2 separate regions of the Homo sapiens genome follow, and region 1 is linked to region 2. The links come from fine-mapping of genetic effects on gene expression. A gene starts in region 2. The other region holds a variant in brackets. All regions are shown on one strand. Distances are between the middles of the regions.

Evidence for each region. PIP is the estimated chance that this variant, and not a neighbour inherited with it, causes the effect.
Region 1: its variant is the best candidate, but not a certain one, in a credible set for the expression of GUCA1C in prefrontal cortex (CommonMind, PIP 0.73).

Annotation. Positions count from the first base shown.
Region 1 is chr3:109,136,046-109,141,433 of GRCh38, reverse strand. It overlaps C3orf85 (chromosome 3 open reading frame 85), which reads right to left and starts at 4,715. Exons shown (of 4, transcript NM_001351622.2): 1 at 4,693-4,715; 2 at 4,538-4,590. The coding sequence starts at 4,586. The variant A/C (reference allele first, on the strand shown) is at 2,800.
Region 2 is chr3:108,951,026-108,956,413 of GRCh38, reverse strand. It overlaps GUCA1C (guanylate cyclase activator 1C), which reads left to right and starts at 2,535. Exons shown (of 4, transcript NM_005459.4): 1 at 2,535-2,855. The coding sequence starts at 2,652.

The DNA of each region.
Region 1 (5,388 bases), 190 kb before region 2:
ACAAAAGGTGAAAAGCCACAGGGCAGATAAAGGAAGTAACACAACAGAAGGCAAAGAGGGTGAAAGGAAACTGGAAAAAATGGAGAGGGGTGCTGAATTGCTGACCGGCTCTCATATCCTAGTGTCCTGTTCAGAGGTCTAACAGGGGCCGAGGTGGGGTGGCTCACACCTATAATCCCAGCACTTTGGGAAGCCAAGGTGGGTGGATCACCTGAGGTCAAGAGTTTGAGACCAGAATGGGCAACATGGTGAAACCCCGTCTCTACTAAAAATACAAAAATTAGCCAGGCATGGTTGTGCATGCCTGTAATCCCAGCTACTCAGGAGGCTGAGCCGGGAGAATCGCTTGAACCTGAGAGGTGGAGGTTGCAGTGAACTGAGATCACACCACTCCACTCCAGCCTGAGCGACAGAGAGAGACTCCGTCTCAAAAAACAAAAACAAAAACAAAACAAACAACAGCAACAAAAAAACAAAGGTCTAACAGGATGCTTTCTAACTGACCTTTTAACTCAGTAACTTCCACTTTACTGGCATTACAATTGCTGACATATTGAATATTTTGGAAAGTAAACAGGAAGTGGTGTCACTTGGGTTTAACTTAAATCTGTTCTAACCTGCTCTTAACACACATACACAATGTTGGCACTCACTCTTATGGCCACAGAATTTCCTTGGACATGTTTTTGGAGCTGGTGGTTCTTTTATTACTTTTAATCTTGTAGACATGGAAATTCATAATTCATGAAAGGCAGCATTGTATTTGATTCAATAGTGACTCTTTCTGGGTCATTGCCTACATGTGTTGATGGGATCCCCATCTCCATATACATATGACAGATGATGCCATATGTGTAGGAAAACAGTTTTTCTACAGCACCCAGACTGCTCAATGAATCTAGTCATAAGCAATGACATTGAGACAACCAAGTATAAAGGGGTCCCAGGAGAACCTCCGACCAGCCTGGTCACTGGGAGAAGGGGTGGACCCACGGAAGCTCAGGCCGTTTGCAGCGGGGAGGGGCCTGGCCCTTCCTGTTCCTGTGTAGGAACCTGGGATTCAATCTGTGAAATGAGGGCCTGTTAACAGGAACCATTCTCCTACTTTGCTGTGTTGTTTTACCGTTTTCCTTTTCGTCCAATAAATTCCGTCCCCTTCACCCTTCAAAGTGTCTGCGAACCTAATCTTTCCTGGTCACATGACAAGAACCTGGATTTTCCTACAACAACATTTTTTTTTCCAGCCAAATTATTTTCCAGTTTATTCTCATTATGTATCTTCTTGAGAGTATCAATCAGTCATAAGCCCAAGTGAGTAGGTAAAATTAAGAACAAAATCTTTAAAAATAAACCAAAACTGTGTCAGAGAATACAGAATCTCTAAGGAATTGGAGGGCTGCAGGGATGACTGAAAAGGGCTAGTCTTCCTATGGTAGAGAAGAAAGCAAAAAGAAAGGGATTGGGGATGCTGACAGGGTTGTGTGTTAGAATATGTGAGCTTAAAAGCTCTTGTCAAAAAACAAAGCAAATCAAAAATCTTTCAAGACAAACTGGCATTGGTTACTAACTGTGGAGTGAAAAATAAGAGGTGGAACTACCAGAGGAAAAACAGACCAAAGGCAGCTTATTATTCTCCCTGTCTAAAACCAGAAGACATACTTGCACTTTATGGACAGATCTGATCGCAGGTCAACAATATGGGCATGGACCCCCAAATCGTTTCGTGTATGGGTCAACTCCAGCTGCCAAATCTGATCAGGAGAACATGATTGCTAAGGGAAAATAAATCTATTTTTCATTTTAGCAGAAGAATGAAAGCAATCCTTTAAAAAAATACACAAATGAGAAACAACAAAAAAAACCCAGTATAAATCTTAATAGCGTTCAAAAGTTGGTTCACTTAGAAAAACACTTTTCAAATTTGTTTTTTTTCCATATTTCCATATTTCCTTTGTATGTGATATAAAGCTGTTTGGTTTTAATAAATGCCCTGTTGCTACTCTTCACCATTAGTACAACTAGGAACTGTCACTGAAAGTCATTGGTGGTGTCCTGGTTCTGCTCAATTTTGTCAGGTAAGGTCACCCAGCTTCTTAACTCCTGGTTGTTTCTTATGGAAGCAACGGCTATGATACTGCCTCTACCACTTTTTCAAGAGGACGTCTTGCTCTGTGAGCTGCTGCTAGCCCATGTCAGTCACTGCAGTGCCAGAGGGGAGAGTTTGTGTAGCAGAAAGAAGAGTTTTGTTCTCATAAGTGGTAGATGTAGGATTAGGACATGAATGCAGCTTCTACCATTGATTGACTGTGTAGCTTGGTCACTTGAATTCCCTAAGCCCTCAGTTCCCTCTTTCTGTAAAATGAGGAGCATAGCATCTATTAGTATTTTCAGAGTGGTCATGAGAACTGACTAAGATAGCCTATGCAAAGTCCCTGACACATAAAAGGAATTTAAATTAGTAGCATTAATATTTGCTGATTTCATTATAGAAGAAGGCAATTAAAATTTTTTTTCTTTATCTCTCCTTCATTTCTGAAAGAAGGCAATTCTTGACCTAAATGTTCAAGACAGGTTTATATGCTTATTTTTTAAATCAAATCACAACACTTGAACTTCTAATTCTCTGACTAGAGAATCAGCTCCAATGCGTATAAGTTACTGTTTTGAAAATAATCAATAACTTGTCAACTCTGCCCATAAATTTAATTACTTGGATAAGGCCTTTCATTGTTTTTGGCCTCAGCATTCCCATCAGGAAAATAGATAAATGAGACCTTCTCCCTACCTCCCTTAAATCAA[A/C]TTCTAAAGAAAAGTAATTTGTTGGACGACTAAGCTATAATAGAGAAAACTTAAAAAACATGAAAATAAACTTTAAAAAAAAATAGTGGTTTTCTTATAATAAGCAGAAGGGCTTCAGAGAAGTACAGATGAATAGGCTGTATTCTTAAAAGAAAATGTGGAGGAAAAGAAGCAAAGAAAGTTCATTCAAGCTACTACTTTCTTCTCTAGAGCTACATGATGTAGAAACTGTCAGCTAAACCAGTTATTGTAATGAATGAATCCAGTTCTGAAGGCATCAGTCTCCTCAATCTGCAAGCAGTGAAGCCTTCTTTCCTGAGATCTGAAGGGCTAATCCAGCAGTGTGCATACACCTCTGTCCTTAGTTTCTAGTTCTCAACTTGCTATTTCATAAACTTCAACTAGATAACTTTATTATTTTTTTTTAGAGTCAAGTCAATCAAACCAGTTGTCTTTATAGGTAGACATATTTGTATCTCAGTTGGAGTTGAAGTAAATTCAAACTTGTTTCTTAAGAAAGTCTTTGAAGCCTCTTTAAAAATTTTGCAGAACCATTTCCTTTGTCAAATATTTTTGACCCTGAAGCATTCATAGGTGAATGTGGACCAGCCAGCATTGCTTTAGCCTTGCAGGCATCCACCACCGTTACCCCCTCTAAAGTCAACTGCACGGATCAGTGGTCAAAGCAAAGCATTACACTGGTGAGTTATAACCAGCTAATGTCTTTAAATTACAATGTGCTCTGAGACACTCACTTAAACTGAGCCAGCCTCACTTTCTTCATCTGGCAATGTGGGCTGTAATTGTGTATGATTGTATATGCTTTGGTTATAACTGCTTAATAATAACTTGGCTAAAAATGTTTCAATCACATATTTAAACATGACCCAACAGCAAATTGCAATATTTATGATTAAAACTCATTATTAAAATTATTTCTATGTTTAGGAATTGAAGGCTTATTTTATATATATATATATATATATATATATATATACACACACACACACACACATATATACATCTATCTAGCTGTGTGTGGGAAGGGCTTCAGGAAAAATATAATTTTTGTGCATGAGTCTCAAGATTTTCATAGAAGCAAAAGTTTATTCTAATTTAAGCATCTGCATCAGAAATATTTATAAATTATAGAGATTTAACCATGAAGATAATTTATATCTTTGTAAGTGTTTTCAGTTTTTGTTACAAGCAAAACAAATGACCTCTCAGTTCAATTTTGATAGAAGCCACTGAGTTACCGGGTCATTTTGGCAGCAAATCGCCTGGCCTCTGGTGCCTTCCTTGATCTGCCTTTAAAGCACCACTTTGAGCTACAGCTTGCCCTAAAGGTTAATAAATTCATGTTCCCAAAGTACTTTGAGGTCTTCATATAATGGTACTATGTTAAGTATTATACTTCTGAAAGATATTTTAAAATTTTCTTTGTTCAAGGACACAACAGCACTTATTTGGAGGCAGCAGCAATTAGGCTTCTTAGCAACAGTATCATGTTAATATATAATTAGAAATAAAATGATCACACACACACACACACACACACACAGTTAACATTAACATGTTCAAAACCACAGCCTTCTACAATAGTTTGGTTTCCCCAGTGCTATAGAATAGGCCTATGGATAAAAACGTGTTTGTTCATTTCTTTAAGAAGACAAAAGGAATTATCAACCTGATGGCTGTAGGAGACATGATAAATAAAAAAGAAATAGGCTCTTACCGATAAGCAATGTTGAGCACAGGACTACTTGAAGCATTTTATAGGCCATGATCCTATTTTGGGAAAAAAAAAAGATTTATTTACTTTAATTTAGCTGGAAAAAGCCTTAGGGTATATCAGGTACTTTTCAGAAGTATAAAGCATTTGTTGCATACCTGGAAGCCCTGTGAGCTGAGACACAGAGAGAGGCTGAGGTGGCTTTTTTATACACCTCTTGCCTTTTTACCCTTTGGACTTTTTGAACTGGCTTTTTACAGGCTGTTCTTATGTGGGTAATTTATTTATTTACTAATTTTACCATCTACATAGATTAACGTAATGTTAAAAAAAGGTAGAAAAACTGGATCACTCACGTATTGCTGGTGGAAATGTAAAATTTTCCAGTCACTTTGTAAAACAGTTTGGTGGTTTCTTAAAAATTCAAGCTTGCAATTACTGTCCAACCCAGCAATTACACTACTGGGCCTTTGTTTCAGAGAAATAAAAACTTAACGTTAAGAAATAATCTGTAGAAGAATGTTCATAACAGCTTTATTAGCAACAGGCAAAGACTAAAAACAAGCCAGATGTCATTCAACAACTGAATGTTAAAGCGTGATATATCTATACCGTGGATTACTACCAGCAGTCATAATAATAACTATTAAAAATAATAATTATTGGCTGGGTGTGGTGGCTCACACCTATAATCCCAGCACTTTGGGAGGCCAAGGTGGATCACCTGAGGTCAGGAGTTCGAGACTGTCCTGGCCAACATGGTGAAACCTGGTCTGTACTAAAAATACGAAAATTAGCCAGATGCGGTGGCATGCGCCTGTAGTCCCAGCTACTTGGGAGGCTGAGGCTGGAGA
Region 2 (5,388 bases):
CTTTTTGTTTCTTTTCTCTTTTTTTTTTTTTTTTTTTTGAGACGGAGTTTCACTCCTGTTGCCCAGGCTGGAGTACAATGGCACGATCTCCGCTCACAGCAACCTCCGTCTCCCGGGTTCAAGCGATTCTCCTGTCTCAGCCTCCCGAGTAGCTGGGATTACAGGTGCCGTGCCACCATGCCTGGCTAATTGTGCATTTTTAGTAGAGACTGGGTTTCACCATGTTGGTCAGGCTGCTCTCAAACTCCTGACCTCAGGTGATCCGCCCACCTCGGCCTCCCAAAGTGCTGGGATTACAGGTGTGAGCCACTGCGCTTGGCCAATTTTCTTTAAAGTAGAATTTATATGAAGAAACAGTTTCTGGATCTCAGGTCCTTATATTCTTGATCCATCCAAAGTTTTCCTTCCTCAAAGGATTTTCCTGCCTCCTTGAAAACTTTTACTACCTTCCTCTGCCATCATCTGTATCCATTTTTTCTTTAATTTAAAAATTAGTGATTAATAAATGTTAATGGTGATAAAAAGTCAGCACCTCTGAGCATCCTCTGGCAGACATTTAGAAACAGTCTTAAAGGGGACTTCCCCAAAGAATGCTTTTTGAAAATTCTAGCAGGATATTTCTCTAATTCCTAGCTGAATAATCCCGAGGCTGAGTCCTCACTGTCTCCCCTTTGTCCTTTTTACTGTCCAAAAAAGAGTATCATTCACTTTAATGGTTTCAAGTAATTCTTTCAAATGGGTTCAAATGGGTGAGTTTTACATTCTATGACCTTATTTTCACCTTTTTTTTTTTTTTTTTTTTTTTTTTTTTTTTTTTTTTTTTAGACAGAGTCTCACTGTCGCCCAGGCTGGAGTGCAGTGGCACAATCTCAGTTCACTTGCAACCTCTGCCTCCAGGATTCAACTGATTCTCTTGCCTCAGCCTCCCGAGTAGCTGGGATTACAGGCGTGCACCACTATGCCCGGCTAATTTTTGTATTTTTAGTAGAAATGGGATTTCACCAGTTGCCCAAGCTGGTCTCGAACTCCTGACCTCAAGGGATCCACCCACCTTGGCCTCCCAAAGTGCTGAGATTTCAGGCATGAGCCACTGTGCCCAGCCCTTTTATTTAACTCTAATTATGACATCGAAATGTCCCATTGAGAGTCTACATTGATATGTTTGAAACAAAATTAACCATATTCACTGTAACCACCACCACTTCTGGTCAAGGCAGTTCATTTAGGCCATGATGGCTACTTCTTAGGAATCAAGGGTTTCATAATAAACAGGTAATCAGTCAGGACTAAGGAATAGGGACAAAGACAGAGACCAGATATATGAGCTGGGCCAAAATGAAAATAAAAGAAAGAATTGAGTGAGGTTAGAAAAGAGAACTGTAGGCCAGGTGTGGTGACTTGTGCCTGTAATCCCAGCACTTTGGGAGGCTGAGGCGGATCATGAGGTCAGGAGATCGAGACCATCCTGGCTAACACGGTGAAACCCCATGTCTACTAAAAATACAAAAAATTAGCTGGGCGTGGTGGCGGGCGCCTGTAGTCCCAGCTACTCTGGAGGCTGAGGCAGGAGAATGGCGTGAACCCAGGAGGTGGAGCTTGCAGTGAGCTGAGATCATGCCACTGCACTCCAGCCTGAGGGACAGAGCGAGACTCCATCTCAAAAAAAAAAAAAAAAAAAGGAGAACTATAATTTAGGGGTAACAGAATTATATTCTACCTGGGGTTTTCTGGTTCTAAGTATGGTTGGTACCAAAATGGGTTGAGGACCACACAAAGCATTCATTTCCACTACTGGACCTTGGATACAGTTCTTAGGTCCATTGACCCTGTTCTTAAGTTCATTGGCAAATGGGGCTTGGTTAGGACAAGATTAGCCAGATTAGAAAACTGGAGTGAGATAAAGCTGGCAGGCCAGTGGCATGTGTAGATACTTGAGAGACCAGAAAAAGGTAAGAACAGAGGGTGGGGGAGAGAAAGGAAGAACACTGCCAGAAGACACAGCCCAATATGTTCCTTTATCTGACTACTACATCTGAAGTTCTTCTTACTACTATTTAATTCTCTTTACCTATTTTTCTCTCTTATACATAGACTTCTTTTTAATAATACTCAATGTATGATTTTTTCATGTAAAATGTTATCTAAATATATCTTCACAATACTCAGGTATGAAAAGGCAGAAACTTTTATTACTGTTTTACAGATGAGGAAACACGAGAATGTAAGTAATGTTTCAATATAGTTAATAAGTGGTAGAACAAAGCATAGAATCTAGGCTTCCTGATTGCAACTCAAAGTTCCTGCCATTAGACCCACTGTACCACTCAATAATGTAGGCAAAATTTATGGCTAACAATATAACAAGGATCACCCTCTCTAAAATATTGCGTGTTCCCTTCACAAAAAACTATGTCTCTGCATGACTGTAAGCATGTTAGTTACCAAGTGCCAAGTGACCTTGGTTTTAAAACTGGGCAGATAAGTTAATCTCACTGGCTTTCTATTCTTATTTAGCTTGTTGCTGTAAGAGGTTTAGAGTAGCTTTCTGAGGGCATATGTTAGCCTTCAGTTTTAGTGAGGAGTAAGGGACTAAATCCAGCAAAAACTTAAGTGAAAACAACCTGAGGAAAAGCTGTAGACTGTGAGTCAAGATGGGGAATGGCAAATCTATAGCTGGTGATCAGAAAGCAGTTCCTACACAAGAGACCCATGTGTGGTACAGAACATTTATGATGGAATATCCATCCGGCCTGCAAACACTACATGAATTTAAGACACTTTTGGGTCTGCAAGGTCTGAATCAGAAGGCCAATAAACATATTGATCAAGTTTATAATACCTTTGACACGAACAAGGTAAGATCTTTCATTTTTCATTTCATTTGAAAATGCTGTGGTTCTGCACTCTTCCCTTTTTTTTTTTTTTCCTGTAAAATAGCCTTAAGTAAAATGTGTACATCCCACTGAATGGAGAGGTCTTCAGGCAACTCACAGCTTGTAGGTAAGTGAGTCATTAAATACTTTTAGTACTGACGGCATGAAAATAATTGGGAACTAGCCTCTCCCACCCTAGGAAGTGTTCTGCATGTAGGGAGTTATTTTAAAACCAGATTAAATCTCGGCATGGAATTCTAATGCTATCATTTAAATAAATCTAATAAGTACAGATTGATTTACAAAGACTGTTTTCGAAGTATTTAATGCATTGGTGACATTTTATAGAAAAGCAAATTACAGGACTCTGCTTTTAAAAGTGTGATTGCATCTAGATTGGCAGATATAATCAATACAAATTAGCCAACATGTTGTCTGTACTCAAATCAAAAGTTAAACTGCTTCATATTACTTTTTTCCCCATAGTTTACCAATTTAGTTTGGGAAAAATGGAAGCTTAACAGTTTTAAATTCAGACAAATTTTTGTTTCTAAAGATTGTTACTCAACTTTTATCTTGAATTTACTCATTCCTGAGGAGCTGTAGTGCATTTAATTTCATTTCTTGAAAAAATACAAAGAAGAGAAAAGAATATATGGAATTGAAAAAAAAAAGAGAGACAAAAAAGCAACAACCTGAAATATCAGGCTCAGGTTCTGCCTGCTTTTACTTGTTTATTTTGGTTATTTTACTGTAGATTTGTATATTTCAAAATGTGTAGATATTGACTAGAATAAAAAGGAACAGAGAAAATGCTAATAGAAAATAATGACTTTAGAAGGCCATCCAACTGATAATAGAAGAGAAAGAAGGGGAGGTAAATTGAGTAAAATTAAAAAAAAAACTGGTTGTTTGATAGGATGTGTAGAATTTAGCAAAATACTTTAAACCAAGAAGCAGGTGACTTAAAAGGAGGTAACAGGCAGGAACTTGGGAAGATTAAACCTGTGCAAAATTAACAGCTGTTTTAATCCTTGTAGCAATGTCAGGAACAGATTTCTTTAGGACATTATGGTATGGTCTTTTGTGCTTTGTTACCAAATATGAGTTAAGCACTGCCTGTTCAGCATGACAGTGCTTTCCTCCTCATCAATTTTACTTAGTGTCAATGCAAGCAAAAGGCGATCTTCAAGGAGCTGACAAATCAGTGGGAAAATGTGACAGATTCCGCTTTTGTTATTAATCCTGGAAGTGTGTTCCAGATACTATAAGCATGATGCCACGTTGTCTTTATTTGCCTCTCCCTGTGTATGTCTCTCTCAGCTCTCAATCTCAGTTTTCTCTTTCTTTCTCTCTGTCATTCTCTGTGCTTCACTCTTTGTATGGCTGCTATAAGCAGCCCAATATCAGGATGAAAGTCTGTTGCTCTAGACAGCAGCTTCTTAGGCTCTAAGTACTCCTGAGAGGTTAGAAAATGAGCTATCGAGTTTTACAGTTATTATCCAAAGGCGTTGATGTCATATCCCATGCCAGCCGTTAGGTTGCTAGCCCAGTATTTGTGAACGCATTGTACATGTCAGTGGTTCACATGCAAGAGTGGGAACATGTGGAAAGGAGTCCTGGGTGGAAGCAAGGATCTGCTGTCAGATGAAGCCCACTGTCAAGGAAGCAGGGACAATGTCCAAACAGGTGTGTGTGTGTCCTTGGTGTGAGAGCCCTCTCAGTGTCCACCACAGGAATGGCCCGACCCATCCCAGGAGCTTAATTTAGATGGCTTGGAAGTTCTGCTGCTATTCATCAAAGAGATTTTATGTTTGCTTAGGAAGGAAGTGAGCCTAAGCAGTAATGACAAATGCCACAAAAGGTGTGGGGATCTCAATATAAAATCAGGTGGTAAAATGACAAGGGTAAGGATTGTTCATTATCAAGTGATACTAAGAAATGATGTGCAATTATGCACAGGAAAAGTCATATATTTAATTAGATGAATTGATAAAACTAGCAACTGTCCAGAATCCCCAAAGATTTACTATTTCTATGCAGCTTCTCTGCAGTTTTCTTTTTTTCTTTGTGTTTTTATAAGTTCGACTTTATTTTTTAAATTTTATTTTTAAAATGAATTTTATTGTGTATGTCTAAGGTATGCAACATGATGTTATGAGATACATATGGATAGGAAAAAGGGTTACTGTAATGAAGCAAATTAACATCCATCATCTCACATAATTACCCATTTTTTGGTCTTTGTGGCAAGAGCAGTAAAATCTACTCATTTAGCATGAGTTGCGTATAAGTATAATTTTATTACTGTAGTCCTCATGGTGTGTGATGAATCTCCAGACTTGTTCCTCCTACATATCTGCTACTTTTATCCTCTGACCTACATCTCCCCATTTCCTCTTCTCCCACCCCACTCCTCGTAACCACTCTATTTGATTTTTTTTTTAGATTCCACATGTAAATGAGATCATGCAATATTTTTCTTTTTCTTTTATGTGCTATAGATGGAAATTAT